Regions from separate parts of the Homo sapiens genome. Here region 1 is linked to region 2. Evidence: fine-mapped expression QTL. Tissue or cell type: cerebellum. Region 2 holds a variant in brackets; the other region holds the start of a gene. All regions are shown on one strand. Distances are from middle to middle.

The links. PIP is the estimated chance that this variant, and not a neighbour inherited with it, causes the effect.
Region 1: PHLDB1 starts here. The variant in region 2 is fine-mapped to the expression of PHLDB1 in cerebellum (GTEx, PIP 0.99).

Annotation. Positions count from the first base shown.
Region 1 is chr11:118,602,906-118,611,006 of GRCh38, reverse strand. It overlaps PHLDB1 (pleckstrin homology like domain family B member 1), which reads right to left and starts at 3,392. Exons shown (of 23, transcript NM_001144758.3): 1 at 3,308-3,392. It overlaps ARCN1 (archain 1 coat protein complex I subunit delta), which reads right to left. Exons shown (of 10, transcript NM_001655.5): 10 at 7,974-8,101. LOC124902765 (a long non-coding RNA gene) reads left to right here and starts at 2,496. Exons shown (of 2, transcript XR_007062908.1): 1 at 2,496-2,884; 2 at 3,819-8,101. RefSeq lists silencers at 106-165, 2,681-2,750, 2,811-2,900, enhancers at 873-1,546, 1,547-2,221, 2,259-2,553 and a cis regulatory region at 6,160-6,355.
Region 2 is chr11:118,648,183-118,656,277 of GRCh38, reverse strand. PHLDB1 (pleckstrin homology like domain family B member 1) reads right to left here. Exons shown (of 23, transcript NM_001144758.3): 19 at 6,085-6,201; 20 at 5,731-5,833; 21 at 588-673; 22 at 386-418. Among named protein-coding and RNA genes, the nearest start is that of MIR6716, 8.2 kb to the right of the region's middle. The variant A/G (reference allele first, on the strand shown) is at 3,184.

The sequences.
Region 1 (8,101 bases), 45 kb after region 2:
CCAAAAAAAGACCCCTGCGGTGCGCGTCCGGCCCTGGGTGCCCTCCCGCACGCTGGGTACAGACGCCCCAGTGCCGCCCCGGCAGCCGAGTGGCGGAGGCCCAGGTGTCTGGATTTGACGAGCGACAGGCAAGGCCCTCTGTGCGCAAGGCCGGGGCGCCGGCAGGTGACCCCGGCCCGGGCCCTCGGCCTCCTCCCCCGCGGGAATGCGCCGACACCCCAGCCACGCGGGACACCAGTCTGAAGCCCTCTCCGCCGAGTGGAGCACCCAGAGTGAACTCTCGGGGGTCTTGGCCCCCGCCTGAAGGAGGCCAAGGAAGGGCCGACTGGCTCCAGCACCAACGGGCACTGACACAGCTCCCGGGCTCCCACGGAGTCCCAGGACGAGAGGTCCAAAGCCAGCCCCAGAGCACCAGACCCGGCCCTTCGCGGGGCCACTGCTCGGGCGCTCCCCGGAGCCCCGCGGGTCGCCCGGCCTCACCTGTGTCCCTGGGGGTCGGCCTCGGCCTCGGCCCAAGCGGTGCATGGCTGTGGCCAGAGGCCCGCCAGGCCGAGCTGGGGTCCTCTCGGCCGCCGCCTTCGCCCTCCAGGCGCACATCCGCCCTCGAGAAAGGGCCGCCGTCAGAGGAAGGAGTCAGGAAGGGAAGGAAACTGAGGCGGGGAGCCCAGCGGGGGACGCCCGAGTGGGGAGGGGGACGAGAGAACTTAAGGATGAGAAAAACCTGACAGAGATGAATGGGGGTGTGCAGAGGGACGGGGCGGGGAAGGGGAGCCACCGGGATGTGAAGGGGAAAATGAAAGGCAGACTAAGAGATGGGAAAAAATGCAAGCTGGGGAGGGGAAGACCGAGGGCAGAGGATGCGGGGAGACTGAAGAACACAGAGGTGGAGGGGTCGGGGGAAGAAAGGACAGGCGGGTCCTCAAGTGGAGGCGACGACAGACGGGAACACTGGGGATGCGCGAGGGCAGCGGAGGGGAGGCTGACGGGCGGGGAGATGGGGCGAAGGAGAGGGAGGCTGGGGCCCACCGGGACCCCAAAGGCGGAAGAGAGGAGAGATGGGCGGCCCGAGGAGAGGGGGAGCCGGGAGAGCGCGGATGGAGCGAGGGCTGTTGCTTGGGTGTCCGGTGGTGGAAAGGTGCCTCTCCGCGGTCCGCAGGGCCGAGGGAGGGAGGTTTCCGCAAGGTAGCGGCCCCTTGCACCCCTCGGCCTGCTCCTGCCCAGGCTGCCCGCGTGGGACAAGGCCGCAGTGTTGGGCGCCTGCCGCTGCCGCCTGCCCGCCCGCCCCTGACAAGCGGCCTTTCTTTGGCGGGGCAGAGAGAAGGAGCCGCTTGTTTGCGCGGCCGGGAAACGGGGCGGCCCCCACAGACACCGCCCGTTCCGAGCCTGGCAGCTGCGGGAAGGGCGGCTGAATGTGTGTGAGGGGCCGCGTGTGTGAGCTGGGGCTGCGGTGTGAGCTGGGCTGTGTGTGTGACTGGGGCTGCATGTGTGAGGGGGCTGCATGTGTGAGCTGGGCTGCGTGTGTGAGCTGGGCTGTGTGTGTGGCTGGGGCTGTGTGACGGGCTGCGTGTGTGAGCTGGAGTGTATGTGTGAGCTGGGCTGCGTGTGTCAGCTGGGCTGTGTATTGAGCTGAGCTGTGTGTGTGATAGGCTGTGTGTGTGATGGGCTGTGTGTGTGAGCTGGGCTGTGTGTGTAAGCTGGGCTGTGTGTGTAACTGGGGCTGTGTGTGTGAGCTGGGCTGTGTATTGAGCTGAGCTGTGTGTGTGACGGGCTGCGTGTGTGAGCTGGGCTGTGTGTGTATAACTGGGGCTGTGTGTGTGAGCTGGGCTGTGTGTGTGACGGGCTGCTTGTGTGAGCTGGGCTGTGTGTGTGAGCTGGGCTGTGTGTGTGACGGGCTGCTTGCATGAGCTGGGCTGTGTAACTGGGGCAGTGTGTGTGAGCTGGGCTTCGTGTGTGAGCTGGGGCCTCGTGTTTGACTGGGGTGTGTGTGTGAGAGCTGGGGCTGCGTGTGTGAGCTGGGCTTCGTGTGTGAGCTGGGGCCTCATGTGTGACGGGTACGTGTGTGAGCTGGGTTGTGTGTGTGACTGGGGTGCGTGTGTGAGGTAGGCTGTGTGACTGGGGTGCATGTGTGAGCTGGGGCGCGTGTAAGCGGGGCTGCGGGTGTGAGGGGCTGCGTGAGCGCGGGGCGCTTTCCTGTGAGGCGTAAGGCATGGAGTGCGTGGGAAGGCCTCGGCGTGTGGGCGGGTCCGGGTGTGTCTGGGTGGCGTGACGCAGGGACGTAGGTGTGCGAAGTGTCGCGGAGGCGTGCGTGTGTGCCGCGTGGGAGCCCGGCGTGGTGGGGCGCCTGCGTTTGCGTTTGACGGCTGGGGGGTGAGCCCGCCGCCCGATGAGTCAGCCTCGGGAGGCTCCAGGACCGCTGAGCTAACGGCCCAGAATGCAGCCCCGCCCCAGAGCCGTGGGTCCCCGGCAGGGCTGTGCGGTCGCCCGGCCAAGTCCCCACTCGAGCCTGCCTCGGCGGAAGCGCTAGCGGGCGACTCGGCCACCCTGCGCCGGCGCCCCTACCCAGCCGCCCGCCCGCACTTCCCTATCCCGGGGGAGCCCGGATGACTTGGGTCAGCCTCCGCTCGGGGAACTCCGCTAGGGATTCCAATAGGGACCGCGCGGGCGTGGCAAGGCGCCCCAGGCGGCCTCCCCGGCCCCCGAGGACGTGGGGCCTTGGGGAGTGCCTGGGAGGCCCCAGGCGGGCTTCCCATCTCCTGGACACCCCCAGGCAGCCCTCCTAGACGCTCAAGACTCTGAGCCGGACTCCGAATCCCTTCCTGGTCCATCAAGGCGGCCGGCCTGGGGACAGGCGGGGAGACGTCACAGGAGATACCCCCGCCCCAAGGTCCTGCTGTGGGCGGAGAGGGGGAGGTGTGGGGCGCTGGAGGACGAAAACCCGCGCGCGCGCTCGCCGCCCGATACCCCGCGAGTGTCCGCCCGGCCGCCTGGGTGCCGGCGGGAGAGTCTGGATAGGGCCAGGATCAGAGTTTCTCCAAGGGGGGGAGAGCGTCACGGCCCCCTCTGGCGGTGGCGTTGGCAGCGGCCGAGGAAGGCAAAAGCAAGAGGCTCACAGGAAAACTCCCCATAACGCTCCTTTCGCCCCCACGCACTCACCTGGGGTGCCCTCTCTCCCCCACGGGTTTCTGCCGAGCTCCCTAGCCTAGAGCTGATCTCAGGGCTCTCGCCAGGCCCCGGGGACTTCCCCTTATCCAGTCCTAGCACCGCAGCGAATGGGACCCGCAAGTGTAGTGGGACGGGGCGCTCTTACCTAGAGGTGGGGGGGGGGCAGGGAGACACTGGTCCCTTAGCCTGGCTCGGCTCGGTCGCGGTGGCCTCAGGCTTAGGAGGACACCGTTGCTTTTCCCCGGGAGCTCGCTAAGTAGGAGGAGAGCGAGCCTGTCCCGCCCCCCTCCCGCCAGTCCCCGCCCCCGTCCCCCGTCCCGTCCGCCTGGCCAGCCAAAGAAGACGCCCTTGTGGGGCTGGAGCCCAAGGTCCCCCCACCCACCCTTTCCCACAGCAGCACCTCCCCCAGCCTGCACAGCGCCCGCTTTGTTCATCTTTGCAGCTGGGCTCTCCACCATCACCACCACCACCACCACCACCACCACCACCACCACCACCACCACCACCACCACCACACATCCCCCTCTCCTCCCACCCTGCCCTCCCGACTCTCCTAGACCACCCTCCACTCCCAGGCTTTAACACGCTTTTGAGAGGGTGTTTTTGACAATCCGTTCTCCCTCCCCCAAACTCTCCCCTCTTTCTTTTTGCCTTAGATGCCTGAAACCTCCACGGGCTCCCACTGAACCTCCCAAATCGAAGCCCCTACAACATGCTCTCAACATCTCCAGAACATCTACTGAGGGTACCCAGGTCTTCTCCCTGTCACCTCCTCCCCTCGCCCTATTCCAAGCCCCACCATGAAGAGCTGTAAATGACATTGATAGCCACGCACATCAGGCTTCACAGACTTTCTTAAGGATAGGCACAAGAAGACTCGTTAAAGTGTCATGCAAACTCCAAAGCACAGGAAAACCGAATGGAATTATCATCTTGCCCCCATGGAGCTCCACACCCCTCCACCCCGACAGACTTGCTGGATTACAGATTGGGAGATGGAGGCAGGCTATAGACATACAATTGAGCACACCAACCTGTAGTAGGAGTGGGAGTTAATAAGGAAGAGAAGGAGGCACTAAACACCTAAAAGCAGCCCCCAAATTGAGCTAGGTTGAAGTCATTCTCCATCTCAACCTCCACTCCGAAATCCAACGCTGACAGTGGATCCTTACCTTGCAAAGCCAGCTCTTGGTCCAGGAGACTGGCTGGGGAGGCCCTAGGGAGCTGAACTCAGCTGGACTGGACTTCTTTGACCTGCACTAGAGGGACCCTGGAGACTCTTCTTCACTGAAGGAAGGAGCAGAAAGCCTGTAAGTCTGGTCTAAATTCCAGCTGGGGTGGATAGCAAAAAATAATTTATCCTCTTTGAGATGGACAAGTGCTGTTCTAATTCAATGAGTTTAGTTTGTGCCGTCTCTCCCTAACCCAGGAACAGCAGGAGGCTGAACTACAGGAATCTCTGGTCACTCATTGACAGGGCTGGCCTTAGCAGGGGACCCCCCACGGCTGGAGACTGAAGCTGACCGGGGCCAAGCAGCAGACAAGGAGGGGGAGGGGAGAGGCCGCCCTTTGCTGCCACCTGCTATAGCTAATGGAGGTGGAACACTCAAGATCCAGAATATGCTGTGGGTACCAGGAAGTCCTAGGATTTGAGGAGCGAGACTCTAGTTTTTCCTCTCTTCATACTGTTTGAAGTCATGAAAGTAATTCTGATGAACCTTCATGAGGCAGATCACAACAGTAATATTCAGGCTATTTGGGTATGTAAAAAAAGGAAGAAGGAAAAAACCCAAACTGTTGTATCCCATGTGCCAAGACCCAGCACTGAGGGGAGGGGTCCAGATTGCAGTACCTCAGAGGCTTTTCACTTCATTCTGTTTCACGGCCCCCAGCTCCTCTTTACTGTACTGGGCAGGAGGAATTTCAGGGAATAATCAAGCCTGCCATGGAGGCAGTGGATGCTGAGGCAGAGGGTCGAAACAGCACCCAACTTCTCTCACTGACCTCCCAACACAGGGACCAGCTGACCCTATGATAAAGGCGCTGTGCAATGTGTCCTCTCCCCTGCTGTGTCAGGCCTCTATGTTCCCACAGTTAGAGCACTCAGGGGACTAAAGACCTACCGCCCCCACTCTCCATCTCCGCCCTGCTCCACATCTGGAGCCCATCAAAAAACTCAGCGCTCTCTCACAGTTACGCAAGAGGTCGAGCAGCTGGGAGCTCAGGAAAGGGGGAGGAAGAGAGGGAAAGAAAGCAGAAAACAGCTTTCCAGGCCTGCTTCAGACTTTCCGAAGTGGAAGCAGGGGGAGAGGGCAAAGCCTGGGTGTGGAAGGAAGAGTGGATTTTTCTAAGGCCCTTTGCATTGGCTACAAGTGTCAGGAGTGAATTTCCATACTCCTGCTTTTGCCTTGGCACATTCCCCACTTTGTCCCACCTCTCAAATTGTACTCCCTCTAGCCCCAGAGAGGTGATTATTGCTCATACAGCAAGCAATCCTTGTAGATACACACCCTCTTCCAGAAAGCTGTCCGTTTCTGGCCTCTGGATCCTGAAGTCAGGCATCATTGGTGTAGGCGTGGTGGTAGCAATGACCCTGCAGCAACTTGGGGAAAAGTTCAAAGCTCTCTTTTCAGCTGTCTTAGAAATTGCATAGTCTGCTTCGACCCAAAGCTAACATGCATCCAAGCTAAGTGGGAAATTTGGGTAGGACAGAAGACTGGTCTTGTGTACCTCCAAGGCTAAGGGCTTTCCTAATGAGCTAAAAGAACAAGCATTCATTTGGGCAAAAGAATGGGAGACAAGACCTATTTCAATTTCTCTCATTGTCTTGAATTTCTAATGCTTCTTTCAAACAGCCCCTGTCCTGGTTTGGTAATCAATCTGATCACCCAGAGTAAACCTAGGGAAGCTTTCCAGTATTGGTTTAGACCCTAAATAACCACTTAGCCCCTGCCCTAAGAACAGCAGGGCAAAAAAACTGCGGTGGGGGATGGGAGAAGTGGTCCAAGCTTCTGAAAACTGCCTAATAGCTTGACTTGTGATTGTGAGAGGGAAAACAGCCTGGTTTGGAAAGATAGTCTAATTTTTCTAAAGGCCTACCTCCGTATCAATCCCCAACTCCCCAGGATAAGACGTTAAGGCAGCTATTTGTAGTGTTGCTGTCTGCCCTTGGGTAACAGCAATGCACAGCAACCAACCTACTTGTGGATCTTCTAGGACAAGGGAATTGGGGGTAAGGGGGTTGTAATAAGACAGATGTGCATAGCAAAAGAAAATCATTTGTGAGGTTTTGCTTGAGATTCCTCTAGAGCCTACAAGACAGAAGCCATGTTACCTACTCTCATATAGATCCATGTTTAGTACTAGCTGTAGTTAACACTTGTCTAACTTGGAAAAAAAAAGGCTTCACAAGCAGATAGTCATTGCTTCCAGTTAGACTTTAATCTTCTTGAGGATGACTTTTTCCATTTTTCTCCTGTCTCCTTCCAATAAGCCCTGTCAGATGTGAAGTTTAATAAAAAGCTATTCTATATCAACCCTGGAAATCTCAGACCCTAGCCAGTGTGAACAACTTTAAAACTGTTCACAATTTAAAAATTAATTGGAGGGCAAAGTTTCCCATCAGAGATGCATGGGTTGACAAATTTGAAGCTATGGTGAGTAAAGGAATGACAGACCTTAATCATTTCATTCGATTAAGGCTACAGTCTCAGACAGCTAAGCCACACTTGAGCAACATTAGACCAGATACTTTTTTTCACCAAGAAAAAAAAAATCAGAATCTTGGCTTTCAACATTAGAAATTTCTCATCCCAGATACTTAATAAGTGAGAATAATTTGCCTTCCAATTTTTTGACACCCAATAGTTTTTCCAAGTTAAATTTTAAAAAAGCATAAGAAAGTAAGCAGCTCTGGCGGAGCGCGGTGGCTCAGGCCTATAATCCCAGCACTTTGGGAGGCTGAGGCGGGCGGATCACGAGGTCAGGAGTTTGAGACCAGTCTGACCAACATGGTGAAACCGTCTCTACTAAAAATACAAAAATTAGCCGGGGGTGGTGGTGTGGAATGCCTGTAATCCCAGCTACTCAGGAGGCTGAGGCAGGAGAATCACTTGAACCCTGGAGGTGGAGGTTGTGGTGAGCCGAAATCATGTCACTGCACTGCAGCCTGGTGACTGTCTCAAAAAAAAAAAAAAAAAAGGCTGGGCGCGGTGGCTCACGCCTGTAATCCAGCACTTTGGGAGGCAGAGGTGGGCGAATCATCTGAGACCAGGAGTTCAAGACCAGCCTGACCAACATGGTGAAACCGTCTCTACGAAAATACAAAAAAAATTAGCCCGGCATGATGGCGGGTGACTGTAATCCCAGCTACTCTGGAGGCTGAGGCAGGAGAATCGCTTGAAGCTGGGCGACCGTGGTTGCAGCGAGCTGAGATCGCACCACCACACTCCAACCTGGGCAGCTAAGCGAGACTCCATCTCAAAAAAAAAAAGTAAGCAGGTTTATCTGAGGGAATTATCAACAGTTCCCAAAAATTGTTCCCATTATCCCTCATCCCTGGATCACTTCTCATCACGGTCTAATGGGGAAGAGAAGACTCCAAGACTCCAAGATTAAAGATGAAGCCTGACTTTTTTGACTCTCCAACTGCCGTCTGACAAAATTAAGACTCCAATCCCCAAAAAGGCCAGAAGTAGCATCAAATTCAAAAGCTACACTGTCAGGAGTGCATGTATCAAATGTAGAAAAATACGCAAGGAAGCACAATACATATAAGATGGAAAAAGGCAATGAATACTCTCACAGATTACTTTCTCTTAAAAAAAACATGTCATTAATTTTTAATGTTAGGTCCCATTACAGCATCCTGAATCAACAAGCAGACACCAAAGTGAGTCAATAATCCAATAAACATCTCATTTTATAATGCGCTTTATTT
Region 2 (8,095 bases):
AGAGATCAGGACTGGGGTGGGCACCAGAGGGCTGGGGGCAGGAAGGCTGACTTGCACTAGGGAAGCAGGCCCCAGCCTCCAATATCTCCTGTTTATCAATTTCTCCCTATTAAATCTAGTCTTTAAGGGTCCCCTCCACCCCTTCCGGCCATCCCTTCTCTATCACCAGACCCCCATGGGGTCTGCTGTCATTTCCAGGAGAGGGAGGCAACAAGGAGAGAGAGGCACCCAAGCCCACAGGAGCTTCTTGCTCTTTGCAACCTGCTTTCTGCTCCTCCCTTGGGCCTGGGGGAAGGGAGGGGGATGAAGGGGAGGTCAAGGGTCAGGGATGAGTGGGGTACAGGAGGTGTTAATGTGCTGGTTACAGCTAAGTGGGGAGGGGTACCTCAGTCACCATAGTGAAGCGGAAAAACCTCTTCTGGGAAGGGGAGAGGGAGAAAGGAAGAGAAAGTTGACAAAGAGAACAAGGACTGGGTTGGAGCCTCTGTAGAGGGCAGGCTGGAGGCCTTTGCTCCCAGAGCCCCACCAGGCCACCCCTTCCCCATGGCTGTCCCTCTGGCCCCCCTCTGGTGCCCTCCACCCCTGACCTTGGCTGCACTGCGCAGGTGGTCGTAGTACACTTCCTCAATGGCCTGGAAATAGATGACTCCCTTCAGCTTCGTCTCATGCTTGTCTGCAAAGCAAGTAAGGGTGGGCTATGGAGCCGGTCACACTTCAGGTCTAGCTCCATTTACGTGGAGCTCCATGGCCTGAGCTTCCAAATCTGGGAAATGGGGTGAAGATCCTAGTCTCCCAAGACCCCCAAACAGAACCCAATACAGAATCCTAAAGATATGGATAATGCTCAGCCTCACTCATAATCACAGAGAAATACAAATCAGAACTCCACTGAGATACCACTTCTCACCTACCCCAATGACAAAAACATACAACAAATATACAGCACACTTTTGGCAAGTCTATGGTGAAGGAGGCAGTCTAATGACATGTGGGAGTATAAATTGGTAAAACCCTTATGAACAATTTGGCCATGTCTATCAAAATTAGAAAGGCATTTATCTTTTGATCCAATGCTTACATTTAGGAGAATTTCTCTTTCACATATACAAAGTAACACACACAAGATTATTAAGTATAGTATTGTCTGCAGTCACAGAAGATTGGAAACAACCAAAATATCAATCAAGTGGAGACTGGTTAATAAGTTAGTGTGTGTCACATCATGGAAGACTAAATACAGCTGTTAAGTAAAATGATATAGGCCAGGCATGGTGGCTCATGCCTATAATTCCAGCATTTTGGGAGGCCGAGGAGGGTGGATCACCTGAGGTCAGGAGTTCGAGACCAGCCTGGCCAACATGGTGAAACCCCGTCTCTACTCAAAATACAAAAATAAGCCGAGTGTGGTGGTGCATGCCTATAATCCCAGCTATTCGGGAGCCTGAGGCAGGAGAATCACTTGAATCCGGGAGGCGGAGGTTGCAGTGAGCTGAGATCACGCCACTGCACTTCAGCCTGGGCAAAAAGAGCAAAACTCTGTCTCAAAAAAAAAAAAAAAAAAAAAGAGAAAGAAAGAAATATCTGATACAGATACAGACTCAGAAATAAGTCTATAATTTATATCGAGATATAATGTCTAGATATAGATAAATTTGATATAAAATGATCTCTAAGACACATTAGGAGGTAAAAAGAATGTACTGTATGCCACCTTTTGTGCAAGAAAAAGTATTTGTTTATATTCTCCTATAGAAACTCTATAAGGATACACAAGAGATTTATAAAATTAGTTACTGTAGTGGGTGGGGCATAATTCTCAATTTAAACCTTTTTATATATTTTTTATTTTTGAACTATATGAATACTTTTACCTATTTTTTAAAAAAAAAGATAGGAAGCACACTCCCTTGATGTGTACAGAGCAGTTAGCATATACATATAGCATATAGCCTCTGGAGGTCAGAGGTGGCAGGAAAGGGGCAAACTACCTGAGCAGAGGTGACCATTCAGTGAGAAGGGGCAGGATCCCTGTCAAGGGAAAGCACAGGGCCTGGGCCAACTTGTCTGTGGCACTGCTCAGATGCTACAGCTGACATCCTTAACAGTGAGCCTGCGTCCTACAGGAGAGGTCACGCGAATCACTAAATTCAATGGTGCCGGCTGGAAGTAAGTTCCTTCCCGAGTGCTCCTCCTCTCCCCGACCTCTGCAGCTTGGTAAAGGCAACTTACGGACTGCTGCCAACATGTCCCTCCAGCCTTGTATCATAACCTTCCCCTGCATGAGTCCCAAGTCCTATCTGAGCTTCTCACTGTTCCCTTAATAATACACCCTGTATGCTGGAACTATCTCCTCCAGCCCATTTCCTTAGCAAACTCCTAAATGATCTTCAAGACCCATTGCAAAATGTCACCACGACAGTGCACAGTTGTGCTCTCCTGTGTTCCCAAAGCACAGATGCTCCTCTGTATAGAACTTATGCTGAATCTGAATCCTCCTTTATCCATTCCATGGTCTACCTCCCCCAACACAAACAACTATGTGCCTGGCACACAGTAGGTACCCAATACTGAAGGAATGAGTCCTAGACACTGGGATTCAGAGAGAAGTCAGAGACCCTTCTCTTAGGAAACTACAATCTCACAGTGAGGAAAATACAGACACACAGCTATGTAAATAGCTACTAAAGGCATGGCTAGGAACCCCATGAGACCACCTACGCATCACAGGTTGTCATGAGTATTAAATGAAAGAACACATTTAAGGTATTCAGCACAGTGTGTGGCACATAACGTGGCACTGTTATTATATCATTACACTCCTGGATTGATGTCACATGGAAAAACAGATGCTGGATAATGCAGGGGTTCAGAGGAGGGTGGGAATCACTCCTAGTAAGGTGGGGTCAGGAAAGGCTTCCTAGATATAATACGTAATCTGGACTCCATGCAATGAGGGGGTTTCTATCGAGTTGGCAGGAAGAGGGTCCAAGCGGAATAGGCAAGGCACCCATGGCCCTTATCCAGCCACAGGCCCATTTCTGACATTTCCTCCTTGGTAAAGGACCAGCCCTGCCTGGCTCTGGGCCTGCTCAGCCCTCCAGCTCCTGTTCTCTCCCATCCCTTCCTTCACAGGAAATAGTAACACACTCCTGCCTCCGCTTCCTTACCACCCACCTATCCTCA[A/G]TCTTGTGCAGTCTGGCTCCTGGCCCCATGCACAGCAGAAAGCCTTCTCTTGACAAGCTCCCATCCCTGAGTCTAACAGCCTTTGGGCCACATCTTTCTTGGCCTTCCTGCAGCATCCATCACTGCTGGTGACACCTCCTGCTTGTGAATGTCTGCTCCTTTGGCTGGCTTCCTTCCCTGTTTCTGCTCCCATTTCTATTCCTGCCATCTGAACTTAGTCTCCTTTTGTTCCACAGGCGCTAACTAAGGCCACATATGCCAAGCACCAGCCCAGCACCTGGCATGTGGTTAGTGCTGGCTTCCTGTCTCCTGCCCCTTCTCCCTCTGCTGGTCTCTCCTCTTTCTCCTTCCCCACACGGGTAGGCCTGCCCCAGGGTTCGGCCCTCTCCCTCCCCTCTTCTCTGCTCTGCAGTCTGACTGCCCAGGTTCAGTCTTATCTCTGTCTCTTAGGAGCTGTGGGACCTTGGGCAATTTACTTAACCTCTCTGAGCATCATTTTCCTCATCGGTAAAATGGCATAAAAATAGTGTTTCCCTCATAGGATTATTTCAAAGATTAATGAGATGATGCATGCAGAGTGCTTAGCACAGCGCCTGGCTCATGCAAGTGCTTGATAAAGGTGATCTGCTATTACTATTATTCCACCTGATTCAACTATTACTCCACCTCTAATCCTGACCATCCTCCTAAACCTAGATGTCCCAGAGGCACTTCAATCTCAACATGCCTAAAATGGAACTCCTTTCCCCAGGCATGTTTCTTCCTCTCCAAAGTCCCTAGTCCCTCTACCTTCCTGGCCCAGAGAGAAACATGGGACACCTGTGCTTCTGGTCCTCCTGCCTCCTCAAAACACCCAAGACCCAGGGTGGTCAGGGAAGGTTTCTTAGAGGGGCCAGCAGGTGATCAGGGACCAGGTTAGGGGGGAAGTGGGCACTCCAGACCTGAGCATCTCTGGCACCAAACTCTGCAGCCCTTTCCCCTCTTCTGAGCTCCTAGCAGGATTGCTCTTCCCAGCTGTGTGGCTAGGTGAGGCTGTGTGACTGGCAGACAGCCCCATCTATGACTTCTGGACAGAAATGATGTGTGTCACTTCCCAACTAGGACATTTAATACCAAGGCCGGGCTCACTTAAGCCTCTCTTTCCCTCTGCCACTGTGGCCAGAAATGTTCCCAAAAGCCATGCTGAAGCAAAGACAACGCTGATGCACAGCAAAGCCCCCACCAACTCACAATGTGCAGTCGACATGTATTGGGCATAAGGAAGCCTAGTACTTGTAAGCCACTGAGATTTCCTTTTTTTTTTTTTTTTGAGACGGCGTCTTGCTCTATCGCCAGGCTAGAGTGCAGTGGCACGATCTCAGCTCACAGTAACCTCTGCCTCCTGGGTTTAAGCAATTCTCCTGCCTCAGCCTCCCGAGTAGCTGGGACTACAGGCGCGTGCCACCATGCCCAGCTAATTTTTGTATTTTTAGTAGAGACGGGGTTTCACCACGTTGGCCAGGATGGTCTCAATCTCTTGACCTCGTGATCTGCCCGCTTCGGCCTCTCAAAAGTGCTGGGATTACAGGCATGAGACACCATGCCCGGCCTTTTAATTTATTTTTTTGAGACAGAGTCTCACGCTGTTGTCCAGGCTGGAGTGCAGTGGCGCAGTCTCGGCTCACTGCAACCTCTGTCTCTTGGGTTCAAGCAATTCTCGTGCTCAGCCTCCCGAGTAGCTGGGACTACAGGTGCATGCCACCACGCCCAGCTAATTTTTGTATTTTTAGTAGAGACAAAGTTTCACCATGTTGCCCAGGCTGGTCTCAATCTCTTAGCCTCAAGCTATCTGCCCACCTTGGCCTCCCAAAGTTTTGGGATCACAGGTGTGAGCCACTGCACCTGTCCAGCCACTGGGATTTTATGACTTCTTGTTACTGCAGCATACCTTACCTCCTCCTGACTAGGGTATAACACAGCATCCCACGCTCCAAGTGGGAAAAGTACAAGGGAGTTCCAGGGATGGGAAACTAGGCTAGATGCTGGAACGGAGAGAGCTGAGAGAGCAAGAGGGTCTAGTCGGCCTGTTCCTGGGCTATCCTGAGCACTCTTTGGCACTGTTCAACTGCTTGTCTTGGAATCTCTGATGGAATTTGTCCAAGGGGGAGTTCCCAGCCCAACTCTGACCATAAGACCCCATGCTCCTGCAGTGCCTGGATGTCTCCTATCAGCATACCCATTGTGCGTGGTTATCACTCTTGTCTGCTTCCCTGATTATAAGCTCCATGAGAGCGCTGTGGCCATCTTACTCATCACCAGAGCCTAGAACAGTGCCTAGAACTTACTAGATGCTTAGTAACATTGCTGAATGAAGGAATGAATGAATGAACACAAAAATGGAGGTGAACCAGGTACATTGTGTACATTTTCAGGGAAGGAGGGCAAAGCCTAGCCCAAGACTCTGGTCCCCTACTTGGAAGCTTGGCCTCCTTCTAGAAGACCAGCCGTCCTGGGTAACAGAGCCCAGGGATCCTGGCTGGCCCCCAGGGTGGCCTTGTGGGAACTCACCCACATAATAGGAAAGGGTGCGCTTGAGCCGGTCGAAGACAAACCAGCGCTTCTTCCATGATTTAATCTTGCCGCCCATCTTGACCAAGTAGCCACGGCAGACCTGGTAGGAAGCAGGAGTAAGGAAGGACCCAAATATGCAGCCCTTAAGCCTTAAGTGTGTGCCATCGCCTGTGCCTGTATTCATGGGGGATTGTCCCCAACATCTCCTCAGGCCAGCACACCAGGTCCTGGGACAGAGATCTGGTTAGGTGAGGGTAGAGACTGACGCCACTATTCCAACGACCCAGGAGGTGCCTCTCACCACGGGATTCTCCCTCTCCCCAGCACCCCAGGGCCACACACGCCTTGTACCTTGCTGCTGAGCACCACGTGCAGGCAGGTATCAACACCATGGCCCGATGACTCAATATGTGTCTTCAGGTCAAAGTCCTCCTTCCGGATTGGCAGGTAGCGGGTCAGGGGTCGTGCCTGGGAGCAAGAGGGAGGGTCAGGAGAGTCTCCTCTCTTCCCTCATTATTCCCCTGTCCAGGCCCCTTGGCTTCACTTCTAAACCCCAACAGCCTGACATCACACCTCCCTAACCCATGGCGGTCACTGTGGCTCCACAGGGCTTATGGCAAAAGTGGAGACCTACCATGCCTATGTTGACTCTACCTAGGGCCGGGCAAACTGCGAAGTCACTCTGTGCCTCAGTTTTCCCACCTATGACCAAGACACGGCATCTTTGTCTTGCCCTGCCCCTCCTTTCCCTCCTGAGCCAAAGAGAATACAGCAAGAGGCCAGATATGAACGTGGTCTGGGAAGAAAAGCCCAATAAGAAATCTAGTTTCTGACTTCGCATGGGACCTTGTTTGGGTCACATCCCTTCTCTGGGCCTCAGTTTCCTTCCATGTAAAACGCCGGCTTTGAACTAGATAATTACTAAGGTCTACTCTACCTCTGATACTAACTAGAATTCTCAGTCAACCGGAATATTTTTCTACTCTTCCTGTCCCAGAAGAACATTAAAATGGCCAGGAAACATCATATATTATTTAAAGAAAAAAACAAAACACACGACCCCACAGATAGCTGATTCTACCCATCTCCCACACCAGACACCAGTGGCCACTGCAGCAATGCCTGAGCCCCAGGACAGGGGCTAGAAGAGAGACTCCCAGAACAGTCACTGACTGAAGCAGGAAAGGGAAGCCAAGCATTTTACAAATATTCCAACCACGGGGGTAAAATTCACAGAGCTTCTTTTTTCTTTTTTTTTTTTCCTGAGACAGAATTTCACTCCATCATCCAGACTGGAGTGCAGTGGCATGATCTCGGCTCACTGCAACCTCCACCTCCTGGATTCAAGCGATTCTCATGCCTCAGCCATCAGAGTAAGCTAGGATTACAGGTGTGTGAAACCACGCCCAGCTAATTTTTGTATTTTTTGTAGAGATGGGGTTTTGCCATGTTGGCCAGGCTGGTCTCTGAACTCCTGGACTCAAGTGATCTGTGTACCTCGGCCTCCCAAAGTGCTGGGATTACAGACGTGAGCCACTGTGCCCAGCCCCTTCTCATTATTTCCCAAACCCAATCCAGATGACCTATCCCTTAGGATTTATTTTGTTGCACTGTAGGAAATGAGGGAACTGTGATCACTGCTTGGGAAAGATTCCAGGGGACTCCCAACCTGGGGAAGCCTACTAATCAGAAGGGACAGGCTATCTAAGTCCTACAGATTCTCATGGGGGGTTGTGGGAGTTAGGATTTGGGACCAGAGACATGGGCAGATTTCCCAGCCCAAACCAATTTCTCCTTCTGCTTTCAATTGTTCTGCTCAAGTCTCCTGTTTAAGGAGAAAGGGTAGGGCTGGCTTTTGGGCAAGGAAGGATTTCTGTCCCGAAGAGAAACTAGTACAATTCTGTCTTGGAGATGTAAACCAAAAGTCAGAGTGAGGTCATCCACTGATGGTGGGGACTGGAGCTGAAAGGTCCTGTGGGGTGTGGGCCAGCACACCCTGAAGTTCCACATGCAGGAGGGGCAGCAGGGGAAGCAGACGGGAAGGTGCAGCGCAGGCTCATGAAGCGGATCTGAGGCCCTGGAGAGAGGCCAAGGGGAGCCACTCTGATTCTTGACTACCAGCTCCCATCTCTGGGATGCCTGTCCAGACCCTCTTCTCTGACCCCGGATGTCTGCAAGGTGGCCTGCCACATCCTTACAACCCACTACCCCAGCACACAAACACACACACACACACACACACACACACACACACACACACACACACACACACACAACTTGAATAGTCCTGGTGGGTCTGTTTTGGGGTCAATGAGTCCCAGGTAGAATTCTGCTAGTATTAAGCCAACAGCAATCTTTTCTG